Homo sapiens: one gene and its partners. The protein of the gene in region 1 purifies or fractionates together with the protein of each later gene. This does not show direct contact. Each region holds a gene or a part of one and is shown in the gene's direction. Other genes may lie near its edges.

The links. Proteins that work in one complex are often made in the same cells at the same time.
Region 2: the proteins of SDC2 (region 1) and FGF2 purify together in Homo sapiens (affinity purification with mass spectrometry; 5 studies listed by BioGRID and IntAct, with this or other methods). This does not show direct contact.
Region 3: the proteins of SDC2 (region 1) and PDPK1 purify together in Homo sapiens (affinity purification with mass spectrometry; 5 studies listed by BioGRID and IntAct, with this or other methods). This does not show direct contact.

The regions. Positions count from the first base shown.
Region 1 is NC_000008.11:96,607,475-96,612,885, forward strand, and holds the end of SDC2 (syndecan-2 precursor), read left to right. Parts: intron 1-860; coding exon 861-996; intron 997-1,910; coding exon 1,911-2,074; 3' UTR 2,075-4,316; downstream 4,317-5,411. UniProt on the Homo sapiens protein: Cell surface proteoglycan which regulates dendritic arbor morphogenesis.
Region 2 is NC_000004.12:122,891,680-122,899,518, forward strand, and holds the end of FGF2 (fibroblast growth factor 2 isoform 18 kDa), read left to right. Parts: intron 1-531; coding exon 532-717; 3' UTR 718-1,148; coding exon of another isoform or gene 1,149-1,546; 3' UTR 1,547-5,944; coding exon of another isoform or gene 5,945-5,999; 3' UTR 6,000-6,557; downstream 6,558-7,839. Other genes in the region: NUDT6 (nucleoside diphosphate-linked moiety X motif 6), read right to left, coding at 1,149-1,546, 5,945-5,999. UniProt on the Homo sapiens protein: Acts as a ligand for FGFR1, FGFR2, FGFR3 and FGFR4. Also acts as an integrin ligand which is required for FGF2 signaling. Binds to integrin ITGAV:ITGB3.
Region 3 is NC_000016.10:2,532,332-2,541,802, forward strand, and holds the start of PDPK1 (3-phosphoinositide-dependent protein kinase 1), read left to right. Parts: upstream 1-5,689; 5' UTR 5,690-5,781; coding exon 5,782-5,805; intron 5,806-6,287; exon of another isoform or gene 6,288-6,440; intron 6,441-7,504; exon of another isoform or gene 7,505-7,719; intron 7,720-9,471. UniProt on the Homo sapiens protein: Serine/threonine kinase which acts as a master kinase, phosphorylating and activating a subgroup of the AGC family of protein kinases.

The DNA.
Region 1 (5,411 bases):
ACAGTGCCATTAATGGGAATAGAAAAGGAGGTTGATCTGATTCAGCAGTGAATTAATTACTACTTAGACTTGACGAGTAGAGTTAAAGGTGGTACAGCCAACAGTTAATGTCCTGCAGGCTGCTGGCTTGTTGGGAATAATGCTGACTAGAGATGCGGCTGTGAGAGGTATTCCCATAGATTTCTGCTTGAGCATTGTGCAGTGTCCGAGACCCAGTGAGTGTCGTTCATTAGACAGGTGAGGAAATCAAGGTGGAGAAAAGAAGTATGATGTGATCAGGGAGGAGCTACTTGCGCAATCCAAGTCCCTGGAAGTCCTGGTCTAGGGTTTGCTGAAGGTAATATAACTAGGGGGAAGCATTAGGAGTAAGGCTTGGGGATTGCTCCCCACAGAGTGGGGACAGGAAAAGCCCAGTCAGGCGTGAGAGAATATCTGAAAGGGAACTGTTGTCCTAGTGCCCTGTGTAGTTCAGAAGTGAAGGAGCAGGGAGAATTGGGGCAGTGCTGTTGGGTTGGAGCAGTCAGAGGGAGATGGTGACCTGCAGTTAGAAGAGTGGTGAGAAAGTAGAAATCTTAGGAAATGTCCACTAAAACAACCTCACCATGTCCTTAGGATTATTATGAACTCACTAGCTCTCCGACTTGCCTGATCATGCGATGGGTGTTGTGCAAACCATGAACTACATGGGTCCATCATGACACTCACCCATTGCTATAAACATCACACAAGTGATTATTCCAGTTATTTCCTAAACTCATTCTTTGGGGGAAAAAAAAATTTTGGAATATACTCATCTATTATTTCTTCTTTCCAACACATTTCCTTAAATCAATGTAATCTTTCCCTGTTTCCCATACCAGTCACCTGAAGAAACTGATAAAGAGAAAGTTCACCTCTCTGACTCAGAAAGGAAAATGGACCCAGCCGAAGAGGATACAAATGTGTATACTGAGAAACACTCAGACAGTCTGTTTAAACGGACAGAAGTCCTAGCAGGTGAGTAGCCTGGTGGGCCTCAGGTGGGAGGGTGCCTACATAGGCCTCTGTTAGTCTAAGTGATATTCAAAAGTGCAGCAAAGCTTGCTGTCATCTTTCTGCTGAAAGCAGTCTTGTGGGTGCTTGATTCCAGAGCGAGAAGCAAGAGGCTCAGCAAACATTGTCTTTATTGTCTGCCAGCTCCCTCAACCTACCTCTTCGCCAGCCATCGGGCAGGGGATAGGAGGTAGCCTAAAAGAGGGAAAGTTAACATCTGAATTGATCCAGAACAACTGGATGTAGAGAGATGGCAGAGTGTGGAGATCCATCAGTCTTGCTCACAGGCATTCTACATTTCAAAATAAAGAGAACGAAAAGTTCTTTAGGGGAAGGCAGTTCATATAAGTACTGCCCAAAGTGTTAAGAACGTTGTTTCTATTTTAACTTAATTGGATGGAAGTGCAAATATTTTAAAGGGGAAAACTTTCAAGATTTAGGCACACTTGGTAGTCTCAAATCCAAGAATAGAAATAAATTTGCATGCTTTTTTTCATGTATACTCTTTAAAATTTTAAGTCAATTATACTATGTTCTCTGTTGAAAAAAAGCAGTTAGAAAATTAGAATATGAAATGTGAGTTCTGAAAAGACAAAAGTAGTTTTCAAGTATGGAATTAGTTAAGATCAAGGCCAGATTTTTCTTATCGAGGTTTTTGGGTGGTATTATTAACACTAACCAAAGAAATTACTGTACCTTCCTGAGGAGTTTCAGATTTGCATAGTTACCAGGTTGCTTCATTGAATCCAGCTTTTTTTTTATTGGGGTTTTCAAATTAAGCCTTTTATAAAAGTGTAAGTAGATTAGGCTTGACAATAAAGCTAATGTCTGCAACCCTTGAATCTCTTCTAAAGTAATCTTCCTTTTGGTTGTTTCAGCTGTCATTGCTGGTGGAGTTATTGGCTTTCTCTTTGCAATTTTTCTTATCCTGCTGTTGGTGTATCGCATGAGAAAGAAGGATGAAGGAAGCTATGACCTTGGAGAACGCAAACCATCCAGTGCTGCTTATCAGAAGGCACCTACTAAGGAGTTTTATGCGTAAAACTCCAACTTAGTGTCTCTATTTATGAGATCACTGAACTTTTCAAAATAAAGCTTTTGCATAGAATAATGAAGATCTTTGTTTTTTGTTTTCATTAAAGAGCCATTCTGGCACTTTAATGATAAAATCCCATTGTATTTAAAACATTTCATGTATTTCTTTAGAACAACATAAAATTAAAATTTAACATCTGCAGTGTTCTGTGAATAGCAGTGGCAAAATATTATGTTATGAAAACCCTCGATGTTCATGGAATTGGTTTAAACTTTTATGCGCAAATACAAAATGATTGTCTTTTTCCTATGACTCAAAGATGAAAGCTGTTTCATTTGTGTCAGCATGTCTCAGATTGACCTTACCAAGTTGGTCTTACTTTGTTAATTTATCTGTTGTCCCCTTCCTCTCCTCTGCCCTCCCTTCTTGTGCCCTTAAAACCAAACCCTATGCCTTTTGTAGCTGTCATGGTGCAATTTGTCTTTGGAAAATTCAGATAATGGTAATTTAGTGTATATGTGATTTTCAAATATGTAAACTTTAACTTCCACTTTGTATAAATTTTTAAGTGTCAGACTATCCATTTTACACTTGCTTTATTTTTCATTACCTGTAGCTTTGGGCAGATTTGCAACAGCAAATTAATGTGTAAAATTGGATTATTACTACAAAACCGTTTAGTCATATCTATCTAATCAGATCTTCTTTTGGGAGGATTTGATGTAAGTTACTGACAAGCCTCAGCAAACCCAAAGATGTTAACAGTATTTTAAGAAGTTGCTGCAGATTCCTTTGGCCACTGTATTTGTTAATTTCTTGCAATTTGAAGGTACGAGTAGAGGTTTAAAGAAAAATCAGTTTTTGTTCTTAAAAATGCATTTAAGTTGTAAACGTCTTTTTAAGCCTTTGAAGTGCCTCTGATTCTATGTAACTTGTTGCAGACTGGTGTTAATGAGTATATGTAACAGTTTAAAAAAAAAGTTGGTATTTTATAAGCACAGACAATTCTAATGGTAACTTTTGTAGTCTTATGAATAGACATAAATTGTAATTTGGGAACATAAAAACTACTGAATAAATCATGTGGCCTAATATTGAAAATGTCACTGTTATAAATTTTGTACATTTTTGATCAAATGTACATCTCCCCTTTGCTAACGGCCGTCTGCTCTCAAGGATGACGTGGGTTTGATTTCTAAGTGTTTCACAGTGTCTGTAAATCAAGACCAAAGAGCCTGTCGATGAGACTGTTTATTACCAGATTCACTTCTGAATTGGCCAGAGGAAATCTGAATGTATTATCCTGTGTGTGTCTAGGTAGAGATATTGGAAGGCTGCCAGGGGATTTCGAAGTTTGCAACCTTTATAGGATAACTGATGGCAATATTAAGACAGACGCCTGCTTTTGCAAATAACTTACAAGACTGTAAATTCCAAAGATCTGAATGGGGCTTTCCTGATGTTGGTATCTAAGGCTTAGGCCTATAGATTGATTTACCTTTGGAATTGTGCTCCAAATGTCTACTGAAGCTTAACCGAAGAACTAATAAATGGACTACAGTAGCTCACGTTACAGGGAAGGAGGGTAGGCAGGGAGGCTCTGTGTGTTAAAATGAGGGTCTCACTGCTTTAGGATTGAAGTGGCTGGAAAGAGTGATGCCTGGGGAAGGAGATGGAGTTATGAGGGTACTGTGGCTGGTACTTTCTGTACTAAACATTTCCTTTTTCTATTTTACCACTAATTTTGTTTTAAACTGTGAGCCGTCCAAGTCAGAAGAAGACAGCAAAAAAAGCAACTTTTCCAACATACAATTTACTTTTAATAAAGTATGAATATTTCATTTTGAGAACATTCCCTGGAATTGCCACATAATTCATTAAAAACATTTTTTTAAGCAACACTTGGAACAGTGTTTACTTTAAATCCTTAATGGCCTTAATTAATTCTCAGATTCCTGCCCCATCACTTACAGAACCAATTCACTTTAGAGTGACTAAAAGGAAACGATAGCCTAGCTTTCTAAAGCCACGCTGTGTCCCTCAATTACAGAGGGTAGGAATGGGTATACCTCTAACTGTGCAAAGCAGAGTGAAATTCAATTCATAGAATAACAACTGCTGGGAATATCCGTGCCAGGAAAAGAAAAATTTCTGGCAAATATTTTGTCACTGCTGTAAAGCAAAATATTTGTGAAAGTGCCAAAATAAAGTCTGTCATGCCAAAAGTAAATCATTGTATAGACTGACATCCAGTTTTCTTCAACTGTACACTTTCTGCTTAGTTTTTTTTTTTTAAGATGCAGTAAATAATACTATAAAAAGTGTTAGTAATGATTACTGAGTTCAGGAAAATTTTGGTAAAATGTAAATATTAAAGCCAATGTGAAAATTTCCTGTTTCCTTAACCACATGTAAACGATTTCTCTTGAGTGAATATGGCTTTGTGTTTGAGAGACTTGAGATAGTCACACTGTCCCATTTTCAGCCCGTAGGGGGAATAGGAAGCACTTGGGTTTTATTTTTGTTTTTCAGTTTTAGTTGCAGGTGCGTAGTACCTGAATTTCAGGATTAGGACCTGTTTAATAAAAGTGAACAAGATTATAAAAATTGCCATTTCTTAAGGGTTGATAGTTTCTCATCAAACGTTTACTGAATTTTTGTCCATGCACTTTTTTGCAAGTTAGACAAAATGTACTTGTTATGGATGTAGTCTGTTAGGTCTAGGAGAGTAAGCTAATTAAATAGAATATGATTACTTTCTTCAAGTGTCCCTAAAGAAACTACTGTGTCCTACTTCATAGTTCTAAGGAGCTTATTTCTTCAATATCTTAGACATTTTGAAACATCAAGGAAAGATGTTAGGTGAGCAAAAATATAAAACCTAGAAATATTGTGGGGTTAATTTTATAAGTGTGATCTTTATAGCATTACTATAATTTCATAAGGGGGTGGTAGAGAAAAAAATATTTTTAAACATACTTGGTAGTACCAAAAAAGGCAACAACTTTGAGCTACACTATCTCTAATGTGAACTTCTAAATTCTAAGCCCACACCAGACATCGGTGAGACCCTAAGAGGTTTCCAATTAAAATTAAGCCAGATGATAAATGGAGTAATCTGAAGTGAGTGATCACTAAGGTTTTTTTTGGTTCTAATATTTTATGACAATTGTGAAATTTGAGACTTGGCCATTTCTGGGGAATTACATTAAGTCAGCACAAAAAACTTTAAAAGGGTAAAACCACATCTTTCAGTGATAAAAACAGTTACCAAAATCACTTCTGTCCCACTCTGTCTCCAAACTCTGGGTGACTTCACTCTTACAGTTTATGGTTGTAAAGT
Region 2 (7,839 bases), on another chromosome or scaffold:
AATTTGGGGAATTAACTCTTCTTGTGAGTAAAGTATTAACAAACCTCCTTCTGTATGGAAAGATTACAATGGGTTAGCCTTCTACTGCTGCTTCTGATAAAAGTAAAAATGATCCCTGATTGGTAACCTACCTTGGGACTGGGAAGAGTGTGGATGGATCATAAATACTGCTGGGAGCTATAGCTTTGGGCTTCCCATAGCATATTTCTTCTTACTGGGTATGTCCCTCCTTGTGTTTAACACCTGACCTGTCTGTTTTGGAGCTGGAGAATTGTCTCTGAACTCCTACTGAAGAGACATACTTGATGCTGTCCTGCTGACATGCTGTGTTCCTGGCCTGCATCCTTCTTCAGAACTAGTCTGTGTCACATTTTGGCCCATTGAATCTTGTTAGTTTGATTGCCCTGCTGAACCCAACATCACTGCTGCTGGTTGAGCAGAATAGGCATTATACTATCATAAATATTTAATATGAAAAGTGTAATAATAATAATGATAATAATAACAGGTAATTCTTCCTTTATTTTTCAGAAATGTGTTACGGATGAGTGTTTCTTTTTTGAACGATTGGAATCTAATAACTACAATACTTACCGGTCAAGGAAATACACCAGTTGGTATGTGGCACTGAAACGAACTGGGCAGTATAAACTTGGATCCAAAACAGGACCTGGGCAGAAAGCTATACTTTTTCTTCCAATGTCTGCTAAGAGCTGATTTTAATGGCCACATCTAATCTCATTTCACATGAAAGAAGAAGTATATTTTAGAAATTTGTTAATGAGAGTAAAAGAAAATAAATGTGTATAGCTCAGTTTGGATAATTGGTCAAACAATTTTTTATCCAGTAGTAAAATATGTAACCATTGTCCCAGTAAAGAAAAATAACAAAAGTTGTAAAATGTATATTCTCCCTTTTATATTGCATCTGCTGTTACCCAGTGAAGCTTACCTAGAGCAATGATCTTTTTCACGCATTTGCTTTATTCGAAAAGAGGCTTTTAAAATGTGCATGTTTAGAAACAAAATTTCTTCATGGAAATCATATACATTAGAAAATCACAGTCAGATGTTTAATCAATCCAAAATGTCCACTATTTCTTATGTCATTCGTTAGTCTACATGTTTCTAAACATATAAATGTGAATTTAATCAATTCCTTTCATAGTTTTATAATTCTCTGGCAGTTCCTTATGATAGAGTTTATAAAACAGTCCTGTGTAAACTGCTGGAAGTTCTTCCACAGTCAGGTCAATTTTGTCAAACCCTTCTCTGTACCCATACAGCAGCAGCCTAGCAACTCTGCTGGTGATGGGAGTTGTATTTTCAGTCTTCGCCAGGTCATTGAGATCCATCCACTCACATCTTAAGCATTCTTCCTGGCAAAAATTTATGGTGAATGAATATGGCTTTAGGCGGCAGATGATATACATATCTGACTTCCCAAAAGCTCCAGGATTTGTGTGCTGTTGCCGAATACTCAGGACGGACCTGAATTCTGATTTTATACCAGTCTCTTCAAAAACTTCTCGAACCGCTGTGTCTCCTACGTAAAAAAAGAGATGTACAAATCAATAATAATTACACTTTTAGAAACTGTATCATCAAAGATTTTCAGTTAAAGTAGCATTATGTAAAGGCTCAAAACATTACCCTAACAAAGTAAAGTTTTCAATACAAATTCTTTGCCTTGTGGATATCAAGAAATCCCAAAATATTTTCTTACCACTGTAAATTCAAGAAGCTTTTGAAATGCTGAATATTTCTTTGGCTGCTACTTGGAGGCTTATCTACCTGTACATTTTTGGGGTCAGCTCTTTTTAACTTCTTGCTGCTCTTTTTCCCAAAAGGTAAAAATATAGATTGAAAAGTTAAAACATTTTGCATGGCTGCAGTTCCTTTGTTTCTTGAGATAAGATTCCAAAGAACTTAGATTCATTTCTTCAACACCGAAATGCTGGAGGTGTTTGATCAGTTTTCAAGAAACTTGGAATATAAATAATTTTATAATTCAACAAAGGTTTTCACATTTTATAAGGTTGATTTTTCAATTAAATGCAAATTTGTGTGGCAGGATTTTTATTGCCATTAACATATTTTTGTGGCTGCTTTTTCTACACATCCAGATGGTCCCTCTAACTGGGCTTTCTCTAATTTTGTGATGTTCTGTCATTGTCTCCCAAAGTATTTAGGAGAAGCCCTTTAAAAAGCTGCCTTCCTCTACCACTTTGCTGGAAAGCTTCACAATTGTCACAGACAAAGATTTTTGTTCCAATACTCGTTTTGCCTCTATTTTTCTTGTTTGTCAAATAGTAAATGATATTTGCCCTTGCAGTAATTCTACTGGTGAAAAACATGCAAAGAAGAGGAAGTCACAGAAACATGTCTCAATTCCCATGTGCTGTGACTGTAGACTGTCTTACCATAGACTGTCTTACCCATCCCCTGGATATGCTCTTGTTTTTTCCCTCTAATAGCTATGGAAAGATGCATAGAAAGAGTATAATGTTTTAAAACATAAGGCATTTGTCTGCCATTTTTCAATTACATGCTGACTTCCCTTACAATTGAGATTTGCCCATAGGTTAAACATGGTTAGAAACAACTGAAAGCATAAAAGAAAAATCTAGGCCGGGTGCAGTGGCTCATGCCTATATTCCCTGCACTTTGGGAGGCCAAAGCAGGAGGATCGCTTGAGCCCAGGAGTTCAAGACCAACCTGGTGAAACCCCGTCTCTACAAAAAAACACAAAAAATAGCCAGGCATGGTGGCGTGTACATGTGGTCTCAGATACTTGGGAGGCTGAGGTGGGAGGGTTGATCACTTGAGGCTGAGAGGTCAAGGTTGCAGTGAGCCATAATCGTGCCACTGCAGTCCAGCCTAGGCAACAGAGTGAGACTTTGTCTCAAAAAAAGAGAAATTTTCCTTAATAAGAAAAGTAATTTTTACTCTGATGTGCAATACATTTGTTATTAAATTTATTATTTAAGATGGTAGCACTAGTCTTAAATTGTATAAAATATCCCCTAACATGTTTAAATGTCCATTTTTATTCATTATGCTTTGAAAAATAATTATGGGGAAATACATGTTTGTTATTAAATTTATTATTAAAGATAGTAGCACTAGTCTTAAATTTGATATAACATCTCCTAACTTGTTTAAATGTCCATTTTTATTCTTTATGTTTGAAAATAAATTATGGGGATCCTATTTAGCTCTTAGTACCACTAATCAAAAGTTCGGCATGTAGCTCATGATCTATGCTGTTTCTATGTCGTGGAAGCACTGGATGGGGGTAGTGAGCAAATCTGCCCTGCTCAGCAGTCACCATAGCAGCTGACTGAAAATCAGCACTGCCTGAGTAGTTTTGATCAGTTTAACTTGAATCACTAACTGACTGAAAATTGAATGGGCAAATAAGTGCTTTTGTCTCCAGAGTATGCGGGAGACCCTTCCACCTCAAGATGGATATTTCTTCCCCAAGGATTTCAAGATGAATTGAAATTTTTAATCAAGATAGTGTGCTTTATTCTGTTGTATTTTTTATTATTTTAATATACTGTAAGCCAAACTGAAATAACATTTGCTGTTTTATAGGTTTGAAGAACATAGGAAAAACTAAGAGGTTTTGTTTTTATTTTTGCTGATGAAGAGATATGTTTAAATATGTTGTATTGTTTTGTTTAGTTACAGGACAATAATGAAATGGAGTTTATATTTGTTATTTCTATTTTGTTATATTTAATAATAGAATTAGATTGAAATAAAATATAATGGGAAATAATCTGCAGAATGTGGGTTTTCCTGGTGTTTCCCTCTGACTCTAGTGCACTGATGATCTCTGATAAGGCTCAGCTGCTTTATAGTTCTCTGGCTAATGCAGCAGATACTCTTCCTGCCAGTGGTAATACGATTTTTTAAGAAGGCAGTTTGTCAATTTTAATCTTGTGGATACCTTTATACTCTTAGGGTATTATTTTATACAAAAGCCTTGAGGATTGCATTCTATTTTCTATATGACCCTCTTGATATTTAAAAAACACTATGGATAACAATTCTTCATTTACCTAGTATTATGAAAGAATGAAGGAGTTCAAACAAATGTGTTTCCCAGTTAACTAGGGTTTACTGTTTGAGCCAATATAAATGTTTAACTGTTTGTGATGGCAGTATTCCTAAAGTACATTGCATGTTTTCCTAAATACAGAGTTTAAATAATTTCAGTAATTCTTAGATGATTCAGCTTCATCATTAAGAATATCTTTTGTTTTATGTTGAGTTAGAAATGCCTTCATATAGACATAGTCTTTCAGACCTCTACTGTCAGTTTTCATTTCTAGCTGCTTTCAGGGTTTTATGAATTTTCAGGCAAAGCTTTAATTTACACTAAGCTTAGGAAGTATGGCTAATGCCAACGGCAGTTTTTTTCTTCTTAATTCCACATGACTGAGGCATATATGATCTCTGGGTAGGTGAGTTGTTGTGACAACCACAAGCACTTTTTTTTTTTTTAAAGAAAAAAAGGTAGTGAATTTTTAATCATCTGGACTTTAAGAAGGATTCTGGAGTATACTTAGGCCTGAAATTATATATATTTGGCTTGGAAATGTGTTTTTCTTCAATTACATCTACAAGTAAGTACAGCTGAAATTCAGAGGACCCATAAGAGTTCACATGAAAAAAATCAATTTATTTGAAAAGGCAAGATGCAGGAGAGAGGAAGCCTTGCAAACCTGCAGACTGCTTTTTGCCCAATATAGATTGGGTAAGGCTGCAAAACATAAGCTTAATTAGCTCACATGCTCTGCTCTCACGTGGCACCAGTGGATAGTGTGAGAGAATTAGGCTGTAGAACAAATGGCCTTCTCTTTCAGCATTCACACCACTACAAAATCATCTTTTATATCAACAGAAGAATAAGCATAAACTAAGCAAAAGGTCAATAAGTACCTGAAACCAAGATTGGCTAGAGATATATCTTAATGCAATCCATTTTCTGATGGATTGTTACGAGTTGGCTATATAATGTATGTATGGTATTTTGATTTGTGTAAAAGTTTTAAAAATCAAGCTTTAAGTACATGGACATTTTTAAATAAAATATTTAAAGACAATTTAGAAAATTGCCTTAATATCATTGTTGGCTAAATAGAATAGGGGACATGCATATTAAGGAAAAGGTCATGGAGAAATAATATTGGTATCAAACAAATACATTGATTTGTCATGATACACATTGAATTTGATCCAATAGTTTAAGGAATAGGTAGGAAAATTTGGTTTCTATTTTTCGATTTCCTGTAAATCAGTGACATAAATAATTCTTAGCTTATTTTATATTTCCTTGTCTTAAATACTGAGCTCAGTAAGTTGTGTTAGGGGATTATTTCTCAGTTGAGACTTTCTTATATGACATTTTACTATGTTTTGACTACCTGACTATTAAAAATAAATAGTAGATACAATTTTCATAAAGTGAAGAATTATATAATCACTGCTTTATAACTGACTTTATTATATTTATTTCAAAGTTCATTTAAAGGCTACTATTCATCCTCTGTGATGGAATGGTCAGGAATTTGTTTTCTCATAGTTTAATTCCAACAACAATATTAGTCGTATCCAAAATAACCTTTAATGCTAAACTTTACTGATGTATATCCAAAGCTTCTCATTTTCAGACAGATTAATCCAGAAGCAGTCATAAACAGAAGAATAGGTGGTATGTTCCTAATGATATTATTTCTACTAATGGAATAAACTGTAATATTAGAAATTATGCTGCTAATTATATCAGCTCTGAGGTAATTTCTGAAATGTTCAGACTCAGTCGGAACAAATTGGAAAATTTAAATTTTTATTCTTAGCTATAAAGCAAGAAAGTAAACACATTAATTTCCTCAACATTTTTAAGCCAATTAAAAATATAAAAGATACACACCAATATCTTCTTCAGGCTCTGACAGGCCTCCTGGAAACTTCCACATATTTTTCAACTGCAGTATAAAGTCAGAAAATAAAGTTAACATAACTTTCACTAACACACACATATGTAGATTTCACAAAATCCACCTATAATTGGTCAAAGTGGTTGAGAATATATTTTTTAGTAATTGCATGCAAAATTTTTCTAGCTTCCATCCTTTCTCCCTCGTTTCTTCTTTTTTTGGGGGAGCTGGTAACTGATGAAATCTTTTCCCACCTTTTCTCTTCAGGAAATATAAGTGGTTTTGTTTGGTTAACGTGATACATTCTGTATGAATGAAACATTGGAGGGAAACATCTACTGAATTTCTGTAATTTAAAATATTTTGCTGCTAGTTAACTATGAACAGATAGAAGAATCTTACAGATGCTGCTATAAATAAGTAGAAAATATAAATTTCATCACTAAAATATGCTATTTTAAAATCTATTTCCTATATTGTATTTCTAATCAGATGTATTACTCTTATTATTTCTATTGTATGTGTTAATGATTTTATGTAAAAATGTAATTGCTTTTCATGAGTAGTATGAATAAAATTGATTAGTTTGTGTTTTCTTGTCTCCCATTTCTTTGTGTCTTCTTGTCTATGAATTCTTTTTTCTTTTTTTTTGTTGGGGAGGGGCAGGTGGAAAGATCTGATCTTGGAATAGGGATAAATATAGAAAAATGGATTAAAAACAATTATGAGATGACATGGACAATATTCTTATGGCTGACATGATTACTTTTCTTCCTGTTAGAGTTCTATCTATCCATCACGTGATAAAAGAAAAGAATGAGAAATTATAACATACTCATAAGGGAGCTGTACCTTTGGCTAGTACCCTATATTCTTCATTCATAAAATAAGTTATGGTCCTTTTACTGGTTTGCTTTGTGACACACTCATTTCCTGGATGAATGCTTCTTAAAAGAATGTGTCATTTCTCAACTATGCTAGGTTGGAGACCAGTGGCATGGTTCCCAGAGTTTCCATAGACTGTTGATTATGTGGGTACAGAATTCAGGCTTTCAGTGTCTGGGCTAGGCTTGACATTAATTTATAAAGGATATTATGCTTTACTTTATTAATGTAGAAATATATCTGTAAATATACCTCTATATCAATGCACTGTCTTCTAGATTCCATTTGGAAATATTCCCAGAAGGTTTATTTCTCCAGAAACTATGCAGTCTTTGTCTTGACAAGATGTTGAACTTTACCACCATAAATTCCATTTACTTTTTGAGACAGGGTCTCATTCTGCTGGCCAGCCTGGAGTGCAGTGGCACCATCAGAGCTCACTGCAGTCTTGACCTGCCTGGGCTCAGGTGATCCTCCCACCTCAGCCTCCTGAATAGTTGGGACTACAGGTGTGCACCACCACACCTAATTTTTTTTTTTTTTTTAGAGATGAGATTTCACCGTGTTGCCCAGGCTGGTCTTGAACTCCTGAGGTTCAGGCTATCCTCCCACCTGGGCTTCCCAAAGTGCTGGGGTTACAGGTGTGAGCTACCATAACCAGCCTGCAAGTTCTGTTTCTAACAAAAGAAAAGTTATAATGGAGCAGACCAATGTTTCCTAAAAACAATAAAAGTCAACTTTAAAAATCTTTGACCATAAATGATTAGAGATTGTTAATTAAATCTGGAGATGAACTTATTAGAAGGGGGAAAATGCTAGACATAAGGATTGAAAACAGCTCACACAAATTTGATTTTGACTATTTCATAAACCTTTTATATGGAAATATTAGGTATATGTTTATGCTGGTAAGTATTTTGTGACATTTTATGGCACCACTTAGGTTTTTAAAATGCTTACTTCTCCCCTAAAAAAGTTTGAGCCTGAGTATAGTCTTAAGCAG
Region 3 (9,471 bases), on another chromosome or scaffold:
GCTACGCTCCCCACCGCGCCCTCACATTCCTGCAGACCCCGTCTCCCCACAACGCTCCCCGCCAACGCTGCGGAGCTCCGCGTCGCCCCAGCGCTCCCTGCCAAGCCCCCCACACCCCTGTAGACCCCGCCTCGCCCCAACCCTCCGAGCTGCTCCCCTTATACCCTTGCGGACCTAGTTTGTTTCGTCCCAGTCCTCCCCGTCGCGTCTCCCACATCCCTGCGGACCTCCCCGCGCCTCGCCTCTCCCTTCTGTTACGTATCACGCACAGGTGGATCCCACTACGACCCAGCTTGGCTCCTGTCCCGCACCTCCGCACCTGGCCTCTAGCCCCGCCCTCACTGTCTTGGGAAATGAAGCGGAGGGGTGGGCCGGACACTCTAGAAGCACCCTGGCTCGGAGCTTCCCTAGCTCGGAGTTGGTTTGGAGCCCAGGCTAGGGACCCAGGGTGGGCGCAGCAGGGGAGATTGGCACCAGAAGCGTGGAGGAAGGGCACCTCTTCAGCCCGGCTTTTCCGCCCCTGGAGTCTGGGACAGCTCCGGAGCGTCCGGGTACTCCCTCCCAGACTGGCCCTGTTCCTTTTATCACATTTATGTCACACACGTTTTTTCTAAATGGGTTTACACTTTTGCTATTACTTTGCAGTTCGGTTTGTGTGTGTGTGACGGAGCCTGGCTGTGTTGCGCAGGCTGGAGTGCAGTGGTGCGATCTCTGCTCACTGCAGCTTCCGCCTCCCGGGTTCAAGCGATTCTCCGCCTCAGCCCCCTTAGTAGCTGGGATTACAGGCGCACGCCACCACACCTGACTAATTTTTTTGTATTTTTGGTAGAGACAGGGTTTCACTATGTTGGCCAGGCTGGTCTTGAATTCCTGACCTCAATTGATTCGCCCGCCTAGGCCTCTGAAAGTGCTGGGATTACAGGCGTGAGCCACTGTGCCCAGCCTTTTTTTTTTTTTTTTTTTAACACGGAGTCTCATTCTGTTGCCCAGCCCGGCGCGATCCTGGCTCACTGCAACCTCAGCCTCCTGGGTTCAAGTGATTCTCCTGCCTCAGCCTTCCCAGTAGCTGGGATTACAGGCATGCACCAACACGCCCAGATTTTTTTTTTTTTTTTTTTTTTTTTTTTTTTTAGTAGAGACAGGGTTTTACCATGTTAGCCAGGCTAGTCTCGAACTCCTGACCTCACGTGATGTGCGTGCCTCGGCTTCCCAAAGTGCTGGGATTACTGGTGTGAGCCACCACGCCCAGTTTTTTTTGTTTGTTTGGTTTTTTTTGAGACAGAGTCTCACTCTGTCGTCCAGGCTGGAGTGCAGTGATGCTACCTCAGCTGACTGCAAACTCACTGAACCTCTCAGGTTCAAGTGATCCTCCTGCCTCAGCCTCCAGTTCCTGGCTAATTTTTTTAGTTTTCGTATAAACGGGGTTTCATCGTGTTGGCCAGGCTGGTCTGTAATTCCTGGCCTCAAGTAATCCACCCACCTCGGCCTCCCGAAGTGCTGGGATTACAGGCGTGAGCCACTGCGCCTTGTCTGCGCCCAGTTTTTGTTTGTTTTTTAAAGAGACGGGATCTCACTATGTTGCCCAGGCTGATCTTGAAGTCCTGGGCTAAATTTTTGTCACTGTGCCTGGCTAATTTTTGTATTTTTAGTATAAATGGGATTTCACCACATTGGCCAGGCTGGTCTCAAACTCCTGGCCTCGTGATCCACCTTCCTCGGCCTCCCGAAGGGCTGGGATTACAGGCGTGAGCCACCGCGCCTGGTCTGCGCCCAGTTTTTGTTAGTTTTTTACGGAGATGGGATCTCACTGTGTTGCCCAGGCTGGTCTTGAACCGCTGGGCTCAAATCATCCTCCTGCTTCTGCCTCCCAAAGTGCTGGGATTACAGGCTTGAACGACCATGCCTAGCCATAATTATCCAGCTATAAGGTCAGCTGATTAATTCGTCTCTCTATATAATAACATATTCACAGGTTGGGAGATTAAGATGAGAACATCTTTGGAGAGGACATTATTCTGCCTTTTAGAGAGAAGGGCCTAGGACAGGAATTCCCAGTGCTCAGGTTTAAAGGAAATATGATGTTCCCATCATCGGTACATGAACGTGCCCCTTTCTCTGCATTCCTACCAACACTGGATATTTTCCACTTTTGGGACTTTTAGCAGTTGTTGAGCCAGCCCATTTTACAGCGGGGATAATTGAGGTTTAAGGAGGGGAAATTACTTGCCTAAGATCTCATGCAACTTTCTGTTTCCTGACTCCCAGTCAAGTCTGATTCTCCCTTGGTATGGCTTATATGGGAGGATATTTACCTGGTGGCTTGGAAACCACTGAATGACTTTGTATCTTCCATCCATCCATGTATCCGCAGCCCAGCGAATGTATATTGGGAGCCTCAGACATGTGACCAGGGCCTTGTGGGCCAGAGGCAGCCAGGAGACCTTTTTTTTTTTTTTTTTTTTAAGACAGAGTCTCCCTCTGTCACCCAGGCTGGAGTGCAGTGGTGCGATCTTGGTTCACTGCAACCTCTGCCTCCCGAGTTCAAGAGATTCTTCTGCCTTAGCTTCCTGAGTAGCTGGAATTACAGGCGTCCATCACCATGCCTGGCTAATTTTTGTATTTTTAGTAGAGACGGGGTTTCACCATGTTGGCCAGGCTGGTCTCCAACTCCTGACCTCAAGTGATCCACCCACCTCACTCTCCCAAAGTGCTGGGCTTACAGGTGTGAGCCACAGCGCCTAGCCAGTGCTCTTGTCTTTTGAGAGCCCCCTTTTCTCTCACCTGATCTCCCTGCCCCCTATTTTCCCCTTTAGTCTCCTTTCCAGACGCTACTGAGTAGCTTCAGGGTCAGTCTAGAGATGCAATCCAGGTTGGGATCCTTGCTGGGAGAGCCCTTCCTTCCCTGGCTTTGTAACTCAGGGCCTTCTGGTGTGCACACCTGCAGGGTCCAGGCTGGGCCTGTGCTTCTAGCTTCTCTGTGTCTCTCCCTGAGATTGGAATCCTGGCTCTGTCCTCAACTAGCTTGAAGGGGGGCCCCCAGGAATGGCCCCTTCTGGATTTCATACCCTTGTGTAACCTTGTTTCACTTTTTAAAAGATTTTATTTAAAAAGTTTTTTTTTTGTTAGAGACAGGGTCTCACTTTGTTGCCCAGGCTGCTCTCAAACACCTAGCCTCAAGCAGTGCTCCTGCCTCAGCCTCCCAAAACACGCCCGTTCACTTTCTACCAGGGTTGTGTGTGACCAGCAGATGTGTTGGAAGTGATGGTGTGTCACTTCTGAGGTTAGGTCATTAAAGACGCAGCGGCTTCTATCTTGTGTGTGTTCTCTTTTTCTTGGGCCACTCGCTCTGGGGAAAGCCAGCTGCTGGGGCTTGAAAACACACACGCCTGGGAAGAGGCCGCACTGGTGAGGGACGGAGGCCTCCAGCCCACAGCTGTGGGAACGTGGGAATGAACCTTTTAGGAAGTGAATCTTTCGGCCCTGCTCTAGCCTTTAGATGACTCAGTCCTGGCAGCATCTTGATGGCAACTTCACAAGAGAGCCTGAGCCAGACCACCCAGCCTGGCCTCTCCTGGATTCCAGACCCGCAGGAGCCATGAGTTTCTTTGTTGTTTTACACATCAAAGTTTTGAGGCAATTTGTTACACAGCAGTATATAACTAATACACCAGCTGTAGGGCTTTGGGCACGTTCCTTAGCCTCTGCACCCCCGTTTCCTCCCTCGTGCCATGAGCATTGTAGAGGCGAGTGAGGAACACGTAGACGCAGCACAGTGCCACGCACATGAGGCAGCTTTCCAGCCCCTCCCGGGATGGTTGTGGTCATTTTCTTGCCCCTCCCTGGATGGACCGTGACCTCACAACGTCAGGCCAAGTTATTGCATTCTTGGCCTGAGGTCATCCATTGGCCATAGACAGAGGTTCTCGGCAGGAAAGGGTGAGATAAAGAGAGGGGTCAGTCTCTTTCCTCCAGCCCGGGTCGGGAGAACCGTGCTGGGCCAGGTGAGACATCCGCTGTCTGTGCGGTGTCCTGGGATGAGCCACTGGACCTGACCCATGGGGAGATTTGTCTGTGTCGCCAGAGGGCGAGGGGTTTCCTGGTCTAGCTTGCCTTGGGCTTGGCCAAGCATTCTGGCTGCCACTGGGGCCCCCAGGACAACTGAGAACTGTCCTTTCTTCTTTGACCTTCAGCTGCCCCTCTCTCCCCTGTCCCCTGGTGCCTGCTCAGATGCTTTCTTCTTGTGACCCTTGACCCTTGGCCCTTGGCCCCTGCCCCGAGGCTCCTCCACCCTGGGCTCCGTGTTCTAGAGTTCACTGTGTACTAGTTCCTCAAGCTGTTTGTCCTTCACTGCTTCCGATTTTTCTGTGCATTACTCAAGAACTGCATGGGCATGTGTCAGTATAAAAAAAAATAAAGTTGGCCGGGCGCGGTGGCTCACGCTTGTAATCCCAGCACTTTGGGAGGCAGAGGCGGGCGGATCACGAGGTCAGGAGATTGAGACCACGGTGAAACCCTGTCTCTACTAAAAATACAAAAAAATTAGCTGGGCGTGGTGGCGGGCGCCTGTAGTCCCAGCTACTCGGAGAGGCTGAGGCAGGAGAATGGAGTGAACCCGGGAGGCGGAGCTTGCAGTGAGCCGAGATCGCGCCACTGCACTCCAGCCTGGGCGACAGAGACTCTGTCTCAAAAAAAAATAAAGTTGGCCGGGCGTGGTGACTCACACCTGTAATCCCAGCACTTTGGGAGGCGGAGACAGACAGATCACTGGAGTTGGAGACCAGCCCCTGGCCAACATGGTGAAACCCTGTCTCTACAAAAAAATACAAACATTTGCCTGTGTGTGGTGGCACATGCCTGTAGTCCCAGCTACTCGGGAGGCTGAGGCAGGAGAATCGCTTCAACCCGGGAGGCGGAGGTTGCAGTGAGCAGAGATCGAGCCACTGCACTCCAGCCTGGGCAACAGAGCAAATTTCCATCTCAAAAAAACCAAAAACCCAAAACAAAAAAACACAAAAAAACATTATCGACATTAACAACTACAAGGCGCCCGGCTAATTGTATATTTTTAGTAGAGACAGGGTTTCTCCATGTTGGCAGGCTGGCCTCGAACTCCTCACCTCAAGTGATCCGCCCGCCTCGACCTCCGCCTCCCAAAGTGAGCCACCGTGCCCGGCCGTGAATGTGACTTGATAGCCCAGATTTCCTTCCGTGAACGCTTGTTAGTTGTGAAACTAGCAAAGTTGCGCCTCTGAGTTTACGCAGAGCCGGCTCCGGAATCCGAGTTCCGGGTTCGAGCACAGCTCCGCCGCTACCTCGGGCGTGACCTTGGCCGGAGCCTGGTCCCCTCTGAGCCTCAGTTTCCCGGTCTGGGATGCCGGAATGACAGCTCGCCCCCTGCCCCGCCCAGCCCCGCCCAGCCCCGCCCCGCAGGCCCTGGGATTGGTTCGCGCGAGGTCCCCCTCCCCAGGCGGGGTCGGGCCTCTCCCGCCCGCCAGGCCCCAACCCGGAAATGCAGCTGGAGCGGAGGCGGAGCCCACTAAGGCCGCGGCGGAGCGACGATGGGCGCGGCCAATGGGCGCGGGCGTCGGCTGCGGCGCGACGGAAGTCCTGCCCGGCGCCGCGCGGGGGCGGGGCGGCGCCGGGGGCGGGGGGCGGCGGGCGACGGGGCGGGCGCAGGATGAGGGCGGCCATTGCTGGGGCTCCGCTTCGGGGAGGAGGACGCTGAGGAGGCGCCGAGCCGCGCAGCGCTGCGGGGGAGGCGCCCGCGCCGACGCGGGGCCCATGGCCAGGACCACCAGCCAGCTGGTGAGCGCGCGGCGGCGGACTGGACGCGCCGGTTTGTTACCCTGCCGGGTCCGGCGGCCGCCCGGGTCCGGCGAGGCGGGGCGGCCCGGGGTCCCGAGGGCCGGGTGCCTCCTTACCTGCAGCCGGGCGGCCGGGCCGGGGATGGCGGGCGCCGGCCGAGGGCGCTGCTTGGCTGCGGCGGGGAGACCGGGCCTGGGTTGCGGCGGGCGGCGGCCTGGCCGGGGGCGCTGACAGACGCGCGGAGGGCGGGGGAGGCCGGGAGGTGTCACCCGGCCCAGCGGGGTGGAAGTGCCTGGAAAGTTTGTTTTCGGCTTGGCGCAGCCTGGAGCCGAGCCTCCAGGGTTACCTTTCGGTTCTGTCTGTAGAGGAACCGCCCTGGGCTTCCACCTGGAACGGGGTCCTTGGCGCCTCCGCCTGCGAGAGAAGCAGAAGGTGCAAGTTCTTGCTGAAAGCACCTGATGCTCCTGGGCCCCCTTTTCCAGATTCTTGATGACAGTGGTCGGGAAAACTCGCCTTTCACGGCCCGGCCAAGGGGCATTTGGGTGCTTTTGCTGCCCGTGGCTGTGCTCAGCGTTGTGGGAAGCCCCTGGGAGGCCGAATGTGCAGGATCACCGAGGGGAAAGTGAGCTTGACAGGTAGGAGGGATTTTAGGGGAAGGACCAAAACAAACCACTTGTTGGGTGAAATGTTTTGCTAAAAGTGTCGCTGGTGTTTCTATATTTTCTCTCTATCGCTAAAAGTATCCCTCGTGTTTTTATGTTTTCCATATGCTAAGTTCTACAGTCTGGGGACGACGGTTTAAAAATTTATGCCTTGTATGCGATGTGCAGTGGGTGATGGAAGAACGTCTACATGGCTTTAACATTTGATTTAAAAGGCAAATATTTTAAATGAAGGAAAACCCAAGAAATTTAATTGATCCCGTGTCTTCCAGGATGCGGCTTTTTTTTTTTTTTTTTTTTGATGGAGTCTCCCTCTCGACGCGCAGGCTGGAGTGCAGTGATGCGATCTCAGCTCACTGCAACCTCCATCTCCCGGGTTCAAGCGATTCTCCTGCCACAGCCTCCTGAGTAGCTGGGATTACAGGCGTATGCCACCATGCCCGGCTAATTTTTGTATTTTTAGTAGAGAAGGTGTTTCGCCATGTTGGCCAGGCTGGTCTGGAACTCCTGACCTCAAGTGATCTGCCCGCCTCGTCCTCCCAAAGTGCTAGGATTACAGGCGTGAGCCACCACGCCCGGCAGATGTGGCTTTTTGATAGGCGTTCTTGATCTTTTTTTTTGTGGGGCGGGGAGTGGGGGGTTGTGAGTCTGTTTGAGAACCTGAGGAAAGGTATGGGCCCTCTTCTGAGAAAAAGGCAGAGTGACGCTGAATTTTGTAACTACGTCAGGAGGCTCTTGAACTTTCTGCAGCTCACTCGTGGACTTTGTAGAGATGCGTGTTAAGGAAGAAGGTTCAGCTGAGAAAAATGTTGAAGGGATGCCTTTCGCTATTTCGACATGTGTGGCTGTACACCAGAGTGGCCCGGGTAACATAAAAACATGAATTAGGCGGATTGGCCAGGCTCAGTGGAGGCTGGGGCCGAGAGTTATGTCGAAGTTTGTGAGGTTAACCTGCACCCAGTGACAGTCATGGCGAAATTTGTGAGGTTAACTCGCACCCAGTAACGCTGTTCCAATGCAAGGTGTGTATTTGGTGTCATCCACGGGAAGAGGAAAGAGCAAATTTTCTCATGGCCTTGGCAGTTCCACATGATGGACATTTCATATCTGCAGTTTTCTTCGCATGAGATGGCTTTTTTGCACAAAAACACTGGAATCCAGTGAGCAAGAATGATAGAATGCAAGATGGATTTCCACATGAGGAAGTGTCACGAACGAGCGTTTTGCATCTGTCAGCTGGATTCCCCCATGTGTACGTATGTGAGAACATGCCGTGTTTCCTGTCTGTAATGGTAGAGGCAGCCCTGATCCTGGATTTTCACCTGAGGATGGATAGATCTTCAGGGTTCAAGTGGGTTTGCATCTGGACTTTAGGGTGGCCCTGTAGGCCCTGTGTGAGAAGCCCCCTTCCCAGTGAACTTTCCCTTGTGTGTCCGCGTGGACAGCCAACAGGGGGAGCAGTGCGAGCGTGAAGGCAGACAGTGGCCTGGCCCAGTCTGATGCTAAGTGGGCCAGAGGCAGTGAGTACCATTTCTTGATCTGACTACTCAAGACAGGCGCTTCCCTAGGTACTTTCACACCTCATTGCGAGGTAGGTGTTGTTCCCATTTTACGGGTGCAGAAGCTGAGCTGCAGAGGCGTTAGGTACCTGCCTCATAAGTGGTAGAGACTCCAGTGTCACCCTGCCCCTCACGTTCGGAGCCCCTGAGGGAGGGTCTGCCGGGCAGCTCAGCCCAGCACTCTGTAAGGAAATCTTCAGTGCCACTGCCCAGGATGTCTTCCCAGGGATTGGGCCTGAATGTCTTGACCATGCCGTGCTGGAGGTAGGAGGGGTGTCTTCATATGGAAGAACTGTACATATTTCTTTGGCAGATGGCTGAACTCTGTGACCCCGGGGCCTGTTTCAGCCTCCTGCTGTCAGAAAGCAGCTGTTTGGGAAGAGGCTGTGATTCGGCCTTGTTTGAGGGCCGATACTCTGAATGGGTGAGGCTTGAAATCCTCCCTTTGGAACAAAGAAACATGTAATGATTTTGCTGAAGGTAGAATTGGGGGACTAGGCAGAGTGGCCTCCTGCCCTCCCTAGGGTGGTTCTGTCTTTTGCAAAGGTGGCTGCATCCTTAGGGGAAGGTGAGGGGAGAAGCAGGGAGCATGGAGAGAAGTGGCTTTCGATTTTCTCTCTCCTTTTGGGGAGTTCCTCCTTATGTGGCTGGTCTGGTGCATAGTGTGATGTATTCCTGTACGCAACGTTGCCCTGACAGCCAGTCCAAGCTGAGTCTAGAGCTGGCAAGGTGAGCTCCCAGTGGTAAGAGGGAAGTGGTTTGTTCTGCTTTTCTGAGATGTGTTCTTATGAGAAGGATCCAGCAGCAGCCTGCAGAGATGTGGGGCCTGAAAAGAGGCCTTGGGCAGCTCTTCTTGACAGGTCTTGGCCCTCTAGACTGCCTTCAGCACAGTTTTGGGGAGAAACAGGGAGTGTTCCTTTTTCAGTCTATGCACTCATCCCCTGAGCCGCCTGACCCAGGGTTTAGATGCTCCAGGGCAGCTGATTGACACCGGTGGGAGACGGAGTCTGGCAAGCAGGTGATGAACTGGGAAGCGCTGCAGAAATGAGGGGGCAAGCGTGGCCAGTCCCTTCTGAGAGGATGTGTTTGGAAGAGAGTGGGCACTGGCGTGGCACTTTCCCCTTCTGAGGAAATGGACAGGATGCCACGTGGTGCTGCAGTTCTGTGTGGGGCAGGTTGTGGCTGCAGAGAAGCCCTGGGTGCAGAAACAGTCCCCCAAGCAGGTGCGAGGGCCAGGGTGCTCTATGCTGCTCCACACCTGCTGTGCGATGACATGTGGCCACTGGGCTGCCCAGCACAGTTGTTTAGAAAGCAGGTTCAAAGGGCAGTGTGCTGGGAGGAAGTGCTGCTGTGGAAACTGCAAGTTTTGGACATGAGTTGCTCAGGTCTTTTCAGCCGTGCATTCTTCTACAGCAGAATTGCATTATTCACTTGCTCAGTGTGAT